Homo sapiens: one gene and its partner. The protein of the gene in region 2 interacts with the protein of the main gene of each other region in a pairwise test. Each region holds a gene or a part of one and is shown on either strand. Other genes may lie near its edges.

Region 1 (7,000 bases), on a different chromosome or scaffold from region 2:
AATATATTGTAAGAAAAGTCATGTGAATGTGGGATCTCTTTCTCTCTAAATATTAATATCTTGTTGTATCACATATTCACCTAGTTTCTGATCACAGTTGACTGCAGGTAACTAAAACTGCAGATAAGGGTGAACTATTATACTTCATTTTATAGCGGAACAATACTCCATTGTATGCATATACCATACTTTGTGCATTCATCAGTTAATGGGTATTTGGGTTGTTTCCTTCTTTTATTTTATTTATTTAAATTATTTATATTTATTTATTATTTTTGAGAAGGAGTTTTGCTTTTGTTGCCCAGGCTGGAGTGTAATGGCCCGATCTCAGCTCACTGCAACCTCCACCTCCTGGGTTCAAGTGATTCTCCTGCCTCAGCCTCCCAGGTAGCTGGGATCACAGGCATGCGCCACCATGCCTGGCTAATTTTGTATTTTTAGTAGAGACGGGGTTTCTCCATGTTGGTAGTGCTGGTTTCCCAACTCCCAACCTCAGGTGATCCGGCCCGCCTTGGCCTCCCAAAGTGCTTGGGATTACAGGCGTGAGCCACTGCGCCCAGCCAAGTTGTTTCCCTCTTTTGGCTGTTATGGATAATGCTGCTATGAACACTCATTTACAAGTTTTTGTGCAGACATTATGTTTGCAATTCTCCTGGATTTATATCTAATTAGTAGAACTGCTGGGTCACATGTTAACTGTTTAACTTTTTGAGGAACTGCCAAACTGCATTCCAAAGCAGCCGTACCATTTTACATTCCCATCAGGCATGTATGAGGGTTCCACTTTCTCCACATCCTCACCAACACCTGTTATTTTCTTTTTATATACTGCCATCCTAGTGGGTGTAAAGTGGTATCTCATCATGCTTTAGAGCTGTGTTTCCCTAATGACTAATGAGGCGGATCCTATTTTTTATTTGTTTATTGGTCTTAATTAAACTTTTCATCATTGAGTATCCCTTATGTGAAATGCTTGGGAACACAAGTGTTTCAGATTTTGGATTTTTTTGGATTTTAGAATGTTTGCATAATACTTAGAGACTGAGCATCCCTAATCCAAAATCTGGTATGCTCCAATGAGTGTTTCCTTTAAGCATCACGTAGGTGCTTAAAGTTTCAGATTTTGGAGCATTGTGGATTTCAGATTTTTGGATTTGGACGCTCAACCTGTACTGTCATTGTTTTAAAGCTGGAGAATAAAAAGGGAATTGGGAAAAATTATTCACAACATTAAGAGAAAAAACGTGAACAAATTTAAGGTGTCTGAAACAGCTGATCAACAATGAACCCAATTCTATAGATATATCTGTAGTAAAATGAACATCTCCACATAATATTCAAAAGTGAAATAAGGAACCAAACCTACCCTAAATAGGTAGGACTATAGGTGTGTGCCACCACACCCAGCTAAATTTTTTATTTTTTGTAGAGATGAGGTCTCACTATACTGCCTAGGATGGTCTCAAACTCCCGGCCTCAAGGAACCAAATCCTCTGCACTATTTTAAAAAGAGCTGGAGAATATTTGGGTTTCACACCTACTAAAGAACAAGGAGTGATGTTAACAATTATTTGAAAACCTTAAGGTATTATCTTGCTTGTTTTTCTGGACCAGTAACAGCTTAAAGTGGCTAAAAAGCCAGTGTGAAGAGGAAGAACAGGTGGCAAACAGGACAGGGCCATTTAATACAACCAAGCAGAGACCACTTAACATAGGTCTTTCGGGATAAAACTACTCAACTAAATAAATTTATGTAACACTTACCTCAAGGGTCCAGAAAGACATACTTTAAAAAACATAAAGAGTAGATATGTGCAAACTAAAGTTTTTATTAAAGAACAGGACACTGAGATAGACTATGATTTACCTTCTAATATTAGACAATATGTCCATCACTGAACTAGTAAAAAACATACTATCTTAGGATTCCGACTTTTGTTAGTAAAAAAATTCATGAAATTCCATGTTTGTCAAAATACATCATTAGTTAAAATCTAATTTACATTAAGTTTAAAGTAAATAAAAATTTAGGGAAAAAATGACAGGTGACTAAATTTTGTCCGAATAGTAAATAAACAGTAATAGAAAATAAGTCAGCATTTAAAAATTTCTATCTATCTGAGATGAGACCTCATTCTTGTCACCCAGGCTGGAGTGCAGTGGCATGGTCATAGTTCATTGCAGCCTCCACTTTCTGGGCTCAAGCGATCCTCCTGCCTCAGCCTCCTAAATAGGTATGACTACAGGTGTGTGCCACCACATCCAGCTAAATTTTTTATTTTTATTTTTTTGTAGAGACAAGGTCTCACCATATTGCCTAGGATGGTCTCAAACTCCCAGTATCAAGCAATCCTCCTGCCTCAGCCTCTCAAAGCAATAGGATTACAGGCATGAGCCACTGTGCCTGGGAAAGTTTAGCATCTTTAATAATCAACTTAATCTTGTATTACCAACAAATATCTATGACCTTAAATCATTTTCATTCTGGGTACTAAATAGTGTGAATTATAGTTGTTTTCTGATTATATTTACAATGTTTTGAGAAAACAGTGACAAAATCTACATAAAGCATTTAGTAACCCACTTAAAACATAGGATTAAAGAAATGAAGTCATAAACTAGTATGTATGTGACAATTTGGCTGAAGTATGTGGGAGAAAGTAGGTTTTCAGGTGACTGTTAAATAAGGGGAATAAGAAGCCTTCCCAAATTTGTATGATGTGGTTTGGATTATGGCACACAGAGGTACAAGAGGAATTTTGTAAGCAAAATGTTATTCTGATATGGAACATAGGGGTTTACTTGGATGCAATGTATGACTATGTAAGTTGGCAGAAATAGTAAGAGGTTCCATTTACTCTGCATGTACTTTATGCTAGGCATTGTTAAACATTTCAAAGGCTTAGACATAATTAAGTTAGCCTCCATAATTACTAAGTGGAGAAACCAGAGTTCAAACCCAGACCTAAGTGACTCTACAGTCCATGTCTTTTAACCCCTATACTATAAGGTCCTTTAAGAGCCTGTATTAATTAAAAGTGACACTCATGTGCAAAAGAAGCAATGGTAAACTAAAAGAGTGGCACTCAAAGCATGGTCCACGGGCCCCTATGTGGGTCCTGAGACCTTTACAGAGAGTACACAGGGTCAAAACTATTTTCCTAATGATAATACTAATACTTTTTTTAAAAAAAAAATTGTATTAACACTTGAATTGATGCCATAGGGGTAAGACTGCTGGTGCTTTAGAATGAATTAAGGTAATGACATCAAGATGCAATAGTTGTCACTGATTTCACATCTAAAATTTGTTTAAAAGTCAGCTCACTTAAGAATTCCTTGAGGAAACAGTAAAAAATGATTACTTTTATTAAATATTGGCCTTTTCTAATTGTGTGAAAAAAATGAAGATTACATATAAGCCACTTCTGCTGCATACCAACTTCTACTTAAGGACGACTGTCTCAAGGAAAAAGTACTTGTGCAACTGAGTTGTGAACTGACCTAGCCACTTTTTTCATGGAACACTATTTTTACTTGAAAAAACGACTGACAGACAAATTATGGTTATTCAGACTTAATGGTTGGAAGATGTTTTCACAAAAATGAGCAAAGTGAGTCTATGGCTTCAACGATAACCATTTATAGCATTTATTGCTAATGATAAAATTTCAGCTTCCTCTGAACTTGTCCCAGAGGCATGGTAAAAAAAGAAAAAAAAATTGAGCTTCCCAGAGAAAGTTAGAATTTTAGAAAACTTGTATCCACTTCTGTGAACCTGACAGATTCTCAATACTTAAGATTTTTCTGAATTGTGTGGTTAACAATCATGAATTTTTTATTGAATAAAATATGTTAGCATTTGGAAGACGTGCATAACTCAGTGACATAATGTTTTCCAAATAATCCAATGCATGGTATTACAAAAAGCATCAGTAAAAGATGGGTAAATGTTACATCTGAAGTGCAAGACAGACCAATAGATTTTAATGTAACAGTGTAAGAAAAGTTCACTCATGTGGCTTCAGATTCTACATTGCAACTATCTTTAAGAAACTACCTCTTGCAGAATTACGGTGTAGTATCACTTAATCTCCATAATTATCCTGAAAAGCCTATGAAAACATAACATACTTTCCTTTTTCAACTGTCTGTCTGTGTGAAGGTGGACATTCTTCACACACTTCGACCAAAACAGTGTATCACAAAAGACTGAATGCAGAAACAGATGAGAATTCAGCTGTCTTAAGCCAAACATTAAGACCCGAAAAAAAGGTTCAACATGGCCATTCTTCTCATTATGTATTTTTGGTTTTGAAAAATGTCCTTATTTTATAGATATCAATATACAGTTCTCATATTAACCACAGAAAAAGGAAGAACTCCAACCCTGTCTTTTACCAAACCTAAATGAAAAGCACAGAAAACAAACTGTGTTTTCTAGTGTTTGAAAGTCTACAAGTGACCCACAATTTCCAAAAACCCTCTGAGAAAAAAAGAAAACATTTACTGAATACCTATTATACCCCGTGGACTATGCTCAGTGCTTTCACATAGAACCTTTTCATCAAATTTGAGACTGGCATTAAGGCTGAAAGAAGTCAAATGGAGGAAATATGGTAAAGTACAAAAAGAACAGACTCTGACACACCTGAATTAAAATCATTCCCTTAAATGTTATCTTATTAAATCAAAAGCACAAGAGTTTCTTCTTTAAAATTTCTTCTTTAAAATAAATTCAATATGTATAAGATTGAGAGAAATGTGAATACAGTTAAAAGCATATACAGTAGGTGCTCAGAAAGTTCCCTTCAGTCATATTCCTCTTTTCTGTTCCAAAACTAAATCAGCGAGTAAGTACCAAAATCAGAGATCAAGGTTAAATCTGATGACATGCTCTTGTTTCATTCATCATTATAGGCCTCAAATAGATGAATGCTACTCCAGAAAACATTTAAAAATATTTTAAGGACCCACAACCACTATCAGGTATTAGAAATCAATGTTTAAAAACTACCTTTGCATTTTTTTTTCTAAAGTAGCTTCATTCTTTGAAATCTAAATCACTCCTACAATTCTTCCCAATCTTGTACATTCATTTGACATACTTAGTGACTACGAAAAATAAGGGCATCTTGGTATCTCCAGGAAAACTATCAATGAAGCAATTCTCAAACTGGCTACCTTGTAAACCAGGAAAGTTGGCAAGAAGTACAGAAACAGTCATTTAATTCCTAACTATATTTCTATCAGATATTTCATATTGTCACATGCTTGGACTATTATGTGAAAAATTAGACAGTAGTTATTTTAAGTATAGTAAATATGTTCCAAGATTTGTGGTGAGAGAGATCAGTCTCTAAAAGTTAACAAGACTTAATACCTTAACAATGCTTTTCACTCTGTACACTTTAACAAATCACTGAGGCTCTTTCAAAACAACAAAACAGCTGATCAATTTATTAAACTCTTGCCAACCAAGCACCTTTTTTTAAAGTTCAAGCTGACTTCATATTTTATGTTTGTGTGGATAATCACAAGTTTCTAATTATGTAGCATTTTAATATTCTTTTATATTTAGGGTAAGTTGTTTTCTTAAAGTTGTGTTTTTAAAAGATCTAGTTATATTTTATGCTCTATTTGAACCTAGACACTCAGAACTTTCATAAAAAGTATGCAGGTTTATTAGGAAATCTACAAGAAAATTCCCCTCTACTTTAAAAAACATAAATTATATGAGCTTAATTTACTTTATCCTGACAAGTTTTTTATTTCAAGTTTGGTCACTACCCATTTCCTGTGTTGCACTGTATATACCCTCTTTTCTATGGTTACTATTCTCAAACTAAGACTGGGGATCTTCTACAACACTGTAAGAAGCAGCCACGCCATGGTGAATATCATCTGATAGTTCCTGATAATTATTTTAAATGGATACTGAACATATGCCTTCTTTGGTGCGTTTGTGTTTCAAGAAACTTAACATGACCACATTTTAGAGGAGTCAGAATGGTAGAGAGAGGTAGGAACAAATATCAGATTGAAATCTATGAATAACTTTCAACTCTAACACTCAGAAATTACAACTTTAAAAGGATCACTAATTTGGTGTGCCTAAACTGCCCTTCAATGAGCAGCTACATGTCTCTGTATTAAAACCTTTCCCTATTACTTGTTCAATGTAACAAGTTATACAAGCAGAGAGAAAAAACAGCCACTGAAAATAAGGGAGTAAGAGAATCAATTATACTGAATCTTGTTAAATCCCTTCCCTCCCCCAAAAAGAAAAGCTGAAGGTGATAAAACGCTCAGAGAATTGCCAGGCATCTTCCTAACATTACCTATTAATCTTCACAACACTCATGAAGCAGATGTCAAGTACCTCTAGTTTTACAGATGAAAGAACCATAAGACTAAGCGATTTTCCCCAAGGTCATACACAAAGTTAGAGATCAAATTAAACTAAACTCTAGGACTCTGTATTCTTCATCATTTCTAATCAAATAAACTGTTAGATCATAATATGCTACAATTACCTCTCCCTAAATGCTATACTCTGTACATGGGCTGTTCCAATAAGGTAGCCACTAACCACATGTGGCTATTAAGCACTTGAAATGCAGCTAGTCCAAGTGGAGGTATGCCATAACCGTAAAATACAAACTGGATTTTGAACGTATGAAAGGAATAATATGAAACGTCTCAATTATTTTACACAAATTAGATGTTGCATGGTATTTTGGATATACTGGATTAAGTTAAATTCACTGGTCCATACTTCTTTCTGAAGACTTCCCATGAAATAGATGTCATCATAAGATCCAAATCAAAAAGCAATTATTTTCTCAGAATTTGCTGTATTCTACAGACATTATGTAACACAATGTAGTAACCATATCTAAAGGGTGATTAAGTGTTTAGAGAGATACAGCATATATGTAAGTAGGCTGATAAGTGCTTAGAGAGATAGACCAGATATGTAAGTAACAAATACACAAAG
Region 2 (9,256 bases):
AGGATCACCTGCTGTTTTGGAAATTAACTTTTTTTCTGACATCTTTTTGACCGAACTCTGCATGTGCCTCTTGAGAAAATAATCCAAATTCTTGCTTTCTTCACTTTCCAGTTTTGCTTTATCTTTGCATCATGCTCTGCAGTTTACAGACAAGCATAATGGGTGAGAGTTCCAGTAAATTGGCTGGATCATATTTCTTAGATTGAGTCATGACTGAGGAACTTGTTTGGGAACAGGAAGCAGCCCATGAAAATGGCTGCACATAGTAACCTGCCAGATTGAAGAAACCGGACCACTTTCTAGTGGAAAGATAAAAGGGCAGAAAAATGGTTCTATAACTCAGGGAATGGTAAATTTGTGAACTAGGGTTTTAACTTGTTGAATAATACGTCTTTGTGTGTATTTGGGCTTTTTTATGCTGTTAAAAGTCTCTAGTTATTCAAGATAAGGGAAAGGAAAACTTGGATTCGTGGTAACTGTTGCTACCTCTTAAATGTCTCTGCTGATGTATACAACATGTTGCTAGGCCAGTTATTTTTTTTAAGGCACTGTAGTTACATAGAAATAAACCTGGCAACATTTACACTTGGCCTCGATAGGCTGTAAGGCCCCTTTTGTCTCCAGTATTCTGTGTTTCTGTATTTTAATCACCTACTTTACACTTACTGTAGCAACACAATCAAGATAGCAAATCAGTCTAATAAAACCAAAAGTACTGGAATGTGGGAAATAGAAAGAATGACCTAGAATTCTTGCTGAGAAAACAATTGGTATTGCTATATTCTTGTAATGCAGTGTGAGAGAAGCCAGAGAAGTAAATAGGCAGATACATATCTATGAAATGTAATTAGTCATCAGCAAGATGTATTTTAAAAACACATCTGCTTGGTGTCATTTTGCTTTATCTAATAAGGATTACGACTGCAAGGCAGAGATTTGTAAATGAAGGAGATCTCTGTTGTTTTTGTTTTGTTTTTGCTTTTGTTTTGTTTTAAGACAGGGCTGGAGGGCAGTACATGATCATGGCTCACTGCAACCTTCATCTCCTGGGCTCAAGTGATCCTCCCACATCAGTTTCCCAAGTAGCTGGGACTACAGCAGTGTCTCACCATGTCTGGCTAATTTTTAAATTTTTTTGTAGAGTTGAGGCCTGTGTTGCCCAGGCTGGTCTCAAACTCCTGGGCTCAAGTGATTCTCACACCTCAGCCTCCCAAAGAGCTGGGATTACAGGTGTGAGCCACCGTGCCTGGCTGTTATTTTATCAATTCCTCAAAATTCAAGCATGCCCTCAAATATTTTTGCAGCCTCATATAGCTCTTAATTTGGTTTATATTCATCCAGATGGTAGGATATGATTCATGTTCCACCTGGTTTTCTTCAGAAATACTTAGACAGTGTCTATGGAAAAAAACATTGAACCAGATTTAGCTTTTAGGTAAATAATATAATCACCTGGGAATAATATGAAGAATGAAATGAAAGAAAGAAAAATATAATCAAGTGTAACTTAGACTCTGAATGCTGGTAACTAAGATTTGGATGAAGGAAGGATCTCAGGGGAATAACATTAAAATAAGATTTTTTTTAAATGGAAATACATGATTTTAAGAAGGAATAACTTAAGACATTCCAACTTTATACTACATGAAAGTAAAAAGATCAAGGATCAGTTTTCTCTTTGGAGCAAGGCTCAGTTTCGCTTTCTGTTGAGAGTTAGTAGTGTGTATAATTAATTTTTTTTAACAGTTTATTGATGAAATTTATTTTTAGAAGGAAATCTCCCACCACCTTCCTGTCATTCTCAGGGCAAGATAGAGGGTAGGAGAGGGAAGGGAGACTCGGGGGAATGGGAGGTGCAAGCCTTAATTAGACATTTGAGTGTCTAAAAGATTACTTTTCATTTCAAATACTTTGTCTCAGTTTACTGAATAGCTTTAATTTAGGACAGGGATTGTATTATCTTTGCTTTATCTTTTCCAATATTTTGGATCATCTAAGCATGATAGATGCTGGTTTATTCAAGGCACTAAAATTGACTTGCAAAAGACATATTTAATATGGATTCTGTGTTCAAGTCCTTTCTTCTTTGTTTATCCTGGTACAAAGATGTTTGTTTTAAAGTGGTATGAGTTAATTGTCCAACTTCAGATTTCCCTAAAATGTGTAACAGATTACCCAGTTGGCAAATGATGATATATATTTTTTAAACATGAATATTTCTGTTAGGCCAGATGGTGATTTAACATGAATTGTCCAACATTTGTGTTTCTTATCAAATTGTCTTCTTTTGTCTAAGCCAAGCTAGCAACATAATTTGGAACACACTCAGGAATCACTAAAGGACAAGAGCAAAAAAAATTCAGACACCAAGTGGCAGACGGCATTTGCTCCATATGCCATGCAAAGGCTCCTGGCCAGTGCTCGCATGGCCCTTGGGAAGCTTTCTCACCCGTTGTAAGAAAGTATCTGTGCAGTGCTGTGCAACCCATCTACCTGCTTTCCTCTCTCTACCCAAACCCTACTTATCTAACACTTTGTACTGTGGCCTTCCTCCATGGGGGACTTGCACTTCCTCAAAGCCCTGGATTTCTGTGCAGAAGAGCAGTTTTAGTTCTTCCTTAGGCACTTCCCTTTCCTCCTGTCCAGTGTCATGTTCTTGTTTGTTATGGGCTCCACCCAGACGATTATTTCCTCTTAGATGATGTGTGAGCCTTGCAGAGAGCTGGGTCATTTGTGGAATAAATCATGTGCCCAGTCACACGGCTCCTTACAGGAAATGGTTGGTGCATATTAGCTTAGCACAAAATACAGTAGTGAGCTTGTGGTCCCCAACAGTGAGTCTTCAGTTAACTTCTGCTGTTTTTTTTTTTTTTTTTTTAACATAAAGCTTTGAATGTTTCATACAGTATCAAATCTCTGCAGGATTTTGCCTGCTGAAACAGATGTGAAAATCTGAGTAGCACAGAGTATGACATTAAGGCCATAACAATAAACCTATTGTTGCTGCATTCTAAATTTGATCAAGATGTCTGTTTTTGGGAATCCAAAATAGTTGCTTCAAATTTAGCTTTTTTCTTTTATGAAGCAGTTTTGTTTTGTTTTGTTTTGAGACCTCTCATAGCAAGAAAAAACATTACATAAACTTTTTTTTGAGACAAGGTCTCACTTTGTTACCCAGGCTGGAGTGCAGTGGCACGATCTTGGCTCACTGCAGCCTCGACCTCCTGGGCTCAAGCAGTCCTCCCACCTTAGTCCCCCACGTAGCTGGGACTACAGGCACATGCCACCACGCCCGGCTAATTTTTGTATTTTTAGTAGAGACAGGGTTTCACCATGTTGCCCAGGCTGGTCTCGAACTCCTGAGCACAAGCGATCTGCCCGCCTCGGCCTCCCAAAGTGCTAAGATTATAGGCGTGAGCCACCATGCCTGGCCACATAAATATAAACTTAAAAATACACAGGAAAACCTTTCAGAACACTTTGAAACCTATTTTGGTCCTATTACGATTGCACTGAATGTCCCCCAGCCTAATGAAGAGCAATTAGATGTCATTTGGTGGCATTCTTGGTGGAGACAGTAAGCTAGGGCCGCAGGAGCTGCTTAGTCTCCCAGGGTCCAGCATTGTTTCAGGTAACGTGAACAGGATGCTCAAGAGCTAGTCTAAATAATGCTTCATGTCTTATTTTTCCTGTTTGTTGATAAGGATTCATAAAGATGTCTTTTTCTGGTCATGTCAAGGGAAATTCAAATAAAAAACATTGAATTGGTTTGGAGCTGTCCATTGAAGGGTACTCACAGCAGGAATTGAGTGGCAATTGAATGTGTGTGTGTGTATGTTTGTAAACATTTATATTAGAGTGTATGCAAATGTATATGGGCGTGCCCACTGCCATCACCATTACCCCCACCAACAGTAACAAAACCACCATCAAGAGCAATATCCACTAAAACTTCTAATTTGCTTATTAATTTGCTTTATTATTTGTAAATAATTCAGAATCTCTGAGATCAAAATCCTTTTTTATTACAACATGTTAATAGTAGTCTAATTCAGACCTGCCCTGAGGAAGAACCAAGCAATGAAGCTGTCCATGATTTTAGAAGTTAATTGGCTCATTCTTTCTGACCATCTAGGTAGTCCCAACATTATTTTAGGCTCCCCCTAGTTAGGTCCACAACCTCATTATTATCCATTGGCCTGGACTTTGGTCTCGCTTATACAGCAAGTAGTAGAGCCTATCACTGTCAACATGTAAACATTTGCATATTTTACATTTATAGAGAGATACTTTTCACGTGCCTCATTTGATCCACTAACATCTGTATGCTTGGGTAGGATGGAATAATTAAACAATGTATAGCTAAAGCCATCCAAACCCCTCAAATATTATCATCTGATGGGAAGGAAAAGGGGGGGAAAGGAAATTAAATAGTTATTTCAATTCTTGGCATGATTGACACTGACAATTATAAATTCCATTCAATATTTTCTTCCAGCTCATGAGGGTTGGTTGTAAGGATACTTTGCAAGTCAGATTTATGAGCAGAAGATGTTTGCAACCTAAATTGCTTCAGTTGCATGAAAAAGTCACAACCTTTTACTGATTTTTATCCTGGGATCTCCTTAACAAGAAAAAACCTCAGGCCCAGGAAGTCTAGGGTGAGGCAGGGATGTGTCAAAGTACACTTTTCCCCACGTACAGGGACAAGTATTTGAGTTTCTTTGATTGACTTTGCAAAGAGCTTTGCACACTTTGCACATCACTTCTTGAGATGGGTGGGAACATGGACTGCCTATTTTACAGAGTTCAATTAAGATCGCAGGATCATGCATTCCTTTCATTTTTGGTGCTAGTACCTAGAAGATGGGAACATATTGAACACTTAATACCTTGCTTGGGCAGATAGCTCCAGTTTGCAGAAAGTCTAGACAGGATACCCTGCTATGTATCTAGATTTACTGAGAAGAAGCGGCCCAAGCTAATCAGAATTTTAAAGTAGGTTTCTCAGCTGGGCGTGGTGGCTCACACCTGTAATCCCAGCACTTTGGGAGGCCGAGGCAGGCAGATCACTTGAGGTCAGGGGTTCGAGACCAGCCTGGCCAACATGGCGAAATCCTGTCTCTACTAAAAATAGAAAAATTAGCCGGGCATGGTGGCACGCACCTGTAATCCCAGCTATTCAGGAGGCTGAGGTGAGAGAACTGCTTGAACCCTGGAGGCGGAAGTTGCAGTGAGCTGAGATTGTGCCACTGCACTCCAGCCTGGGCGACAGAGCGAGACTCCGTCTCAAAAAAAAATAAAATAAAGTAGGTTTCTCTATACCTTTGAATTTTCTGTCTCCCATGATAACCTTTGGGTAAACATGTCCATCAGAATGGAAACAAATCATTTTTTAAAATAGAAATTATTCTCATACCTATTTTAGTGGGAATCCCCCTGAGAAGATAGCCATGTATAGTCGACTGAATGCTCTGTGGTTGCTATTTTGTTGCTCTTGGCCAGGAAACTGATCTAGGTGACCTACAGACTTAATCTGACCTGCAGACTGGCCGCTTCATACTACCAAGATTCCAAAGCCAAGTGTATATACAGTCGGCCCATGCAGCCTCTGGTTCCATGATGCAACCAATGGCAGATTGGTTCAAAAATATTTGGAAAAAGGCCAAGCACAGTGGAGTGGTTCATGCCTGTAATCCTAGCACTTTGGGAAGCTGAGGCAGGAAAATCAATGGAGCCCGGGAATTCAAGACCAGCCTGGGCAAAATGGCAAGACGCCATCTCTACAAAAAGTAATTAGCTGGGCTTGGTGGCATGTGCCTGTAGTCCCAGCTACTTGGGAGGCTGAGGTGGGAGGATCACTTGAGCCCAGGTGAAGGCTGCAGTGAGCCATGATTGCATCACCACACTCCAGCCTGGGTGACAGAGTGAGACCCTATCTCAAAATGAGTAAATAAATAATAAAATTTCAAAAGGAAAAAAGTGGAAAAAAAACCCGAAAAAATAACAATACACACATAAAATACAGTATAACAACTATTTACACAGCATTTACACTTTACTAGGTATTGTAAGTAATCCAGGGATGAGTTAAAGTATATAAAGGGATATGCATAGGTTATTTGCAGCAAATGCCATGCCATTTTATAATAGTGTAGGCTCATGGCTAATAAAGCATGAACCCGACTGAAGCTGCCTGGGTATGTGTCTTTGTTCAGCCACTTTCTGGTAGTATCTTTTTTCTTAACCTCAGTATTCTTATACTGTATAACAGGAATGTTTTCTCTGTATAAGGCTGTTTTGAGGAATAGTTTCTATATGTAAAGTACTTAGAACAGTGCATAGCATATAGGAAGCCCTTAATAGATACTGGCTTAAAGATAATTAGGTATGTCCTAGTGAGGTATACCTAACTACAAGTGCTACTTTAACTATGCCTACTTTGTGTGCTTTACAATATATATTGTTCAAGGCTAGAATAATGAGCCCCATGAGCAGGGTTTCATAGCATTTAAGATTCCAACGCCAACCTTCAATCATGGACACAGGTGGCCTGTGCCATCTAGCTAGCTGCGCTGCCTCCAGGCTGGGTGGCCTGCTCCTCTGTTGGATAAAAATAGCCTGACTCCTCACTGAAACAACCACCATGTTATTTGCGTCCTTGGGAAGCTGAAAGTAATAGAACTCTAAGTCTGGCGTTGCCAGCTGTCAGCAGAATGAAATGCAAAGTGTGACGTGTCTACACTGTACCCACTGGCCTTCAAGTCCCAACTCCCGTTCCCCCATCTTGATTTTTTTCCATTCTCAAATTAATTATTTCCCCTATAGGTGATTTGTGGAATGGAAACAGATTTAGATTTCCTACCTATTTAGATTTTTCCAAAGACTAAAATTACAAATCAGAAAAACTGCTATTGACACATTTTTGGTTAGGAAAATCTGGATGTGGTTCCTATGCCTAGCCTAGTCATATAAATTCTCTCCCCATGTATCTTTTTGTGTGTGTGAAACAGGGTCTTGTCACCCAAGCTGGAGTGCAGTGGTACAATCACAGCTCACCATGGCCTTGACTTCCTGGGCTCAAGCAATCCTCTCACTTCAGTCTCCCTAATAGTTGGGACTACAGGCTCGTATCACCACGTGCAACTAATTTGTTTTGATTTTGGGTAGAAACAGGTGTCACTATGGTGCCCAGGCTAGTAACTCCTGTGCTCCAGCAATCCTCCTGCCTTGGCCTCCCAAACTCCTGGGATTACAGGCCTGAGTCACCAAGCTCAGCCTCTCCTCATCAAAACCATTCCCTCTTTGTAAGATTCTTCCTATGTCTTAAAACTTAATACCTTTAATCCTTCCCTGGAGCCATAGTTTTATTTATTTATTTATTTATTTATGAGACAGGGTCTCACTTTGTTGCCCGGGCTGGAGTGCAGTGACACGATCATAGCTCACTGCTGCCATGACCTCCTGGACTGAAGTGATCCTCCTACCTCAGCCTCCTGAGTAGCTGGGACCACAGGTGTGCGCCACCACACCAGTTGTTGTTGTTGTTGTTTGTTTTTGTTTTGGTAGAAACAGGGTCTCTCCATGTTGCCCAGGCTGGTCGCGAACTCCTGGGCTCAAGCAATCCACCTGCCTCAGCCTCCCAAAGTGCTGGGCTTGTAGGCGTGAGCCACCGCACCTGTCCCTGTCTGCTTTTATTTTATTTTTTTTTGAGATGGAGTCTTGCTCTGTTGCCCAGGCTGGAGTGCAGTGGTGCGATCTCAGCTGACTGCAACCTCTGCCTCCCAGGTTCAAGCCGATTCTCCTGCCTCAGCCTCCTGAGTAGCTGGGATTACAGGCACGTACCACCACACCCGGCTGATTTTTGTATTTTTAGTAGAGACGTGGTTTCACCATGTTGGCCAGGCTGATCTCGAACTCCAGACCTCAGGTGATCCACCCACCTTGGCCTCCCAAAGTGCTGGGATTACAGGCATATAGGTAAGCCACAGAGATAAGAGTAGCAAGCAGTGATGGGGAGAAGATAATCTAGTGTAGGAAAGATGGAAAGAATGGTGATATTTCACAACTGCTAGATTGACACTTTAACTTGAGAGTTATCCCTCTATAAACTGGATATTTGCTGAGCAAAGTTTAAAGAAAACTCCATGTATTCAGTAATGTTTTCCAGACCCCACTTCTCTTATATAAGCCAGTGGCTTAGAGTGCTTGCTCTAATTTCTATATTCCATTAAACAAGGGTGGGATTTCTTCTCATTCAAACCATTTGTGACTTTGCCCTTTAGTGACCTCTACCATCACCCTATCATTAATGATCCAAGTGATTAGAATGGATGGCTATGTGTTTGTAGGTTGTTTGTTGTCTTTAATGAATAGATTCATTGAATGGAATTAACTGTGCTCTTCTAGAACATTGGATCTGTGTTCTCATTTAGATTGTATTTGTAATCTCCCCACTTCCCACCATCAACAGTGGCATAATGTGAATTAATTTATGTGGTATCTGTCATTTAAAAAACATGAGCTCTCTCCTTCCTTTTTTTGTCTTAAACATAGGACATGGATTTGATTGACATACTTTGGAGGCAAGATATAGATCTTGGAGTAAGTCGAGAAGTATTTGACTTCAGTCAGCGACGGAAAGAGTATGAGCTGGAAAAACAGAAAAAACTTGAAAAGGAAAGACAAGAACAACTCCAAAAGGAGCAAGAGAAAGCCTTTTTCGCTCAGTTACAACTAGATGAAGAGACAGGTGAATTTCTCCCAATTCAGCCAGCCCAGCACATCCAGTCAGAAACCAGTGGATCTGCCAACTACTCCCAGGTACAGAGTACTCAGTTCTTGGGAAAGTTATGGCAGGTTTAAGGAAACACTGAGCAAGGAATTAAAATATCTGGATTTGAGTTCCAGCTTTGCCTTTCTTTTACTTAACCTTGTCAAATCTACTTTCCAACCTCAGCCTCCTGATGAGTTCAGTACCTAACCTGAGTTCAGTACCCAACCTATTGATCTTAACAGTGTTATTGTGAGGATTGGGAAGACTTAAGTTACACCAAAGAGTTTTGTAAAGTATAGAAACATCCTGTAAGGATCAAGTAGCAGCAACAGAAGTAGTAGCAGGAGAACCAAGTAGCAGGGATTACTGGCGTTACTGTGTGTGGCAAGCACTGTTTTAAGAACATATACTGACTGATTTAATTAACACAACTATATTAATTAGTTACCATTATCCCTGTTTTATCTACGATGAGCAACT

Evidence for each region. Proteins that work in one complex are often made in the same cells at the same time.
Region 1: the proteins of NFE2L2 (region 2) and KPNA4 interact in binary tests that used the Homo sapiens proteins (3 or more experiments, as listed by UniProt).

Annotation. Positions count from the first base shown.
Region 1 is NC_000003.12:160,555,572-160,562,571, forward strand, and holds part of KPNA4 (importin subunit alpha-3), read right to left. Parts: intron 1-7,000. UniProt on the Homo sapiens protein: Functions in nuclear protein import as an adapter protein for nuclear receptor KPNB1. Binds specifically and directly to substrates containing either a simple or bipartite NLS motif.
Region 2 is NC_000002.12:177,233,572-177,242,827, reverse strand, and holds part of NFE2L2 (nuclear factor erythroid 2-related factor 2), read left to right. Parts: intron 1-8,556; coding exon 8,557-8,823; intron 8,824-9,256.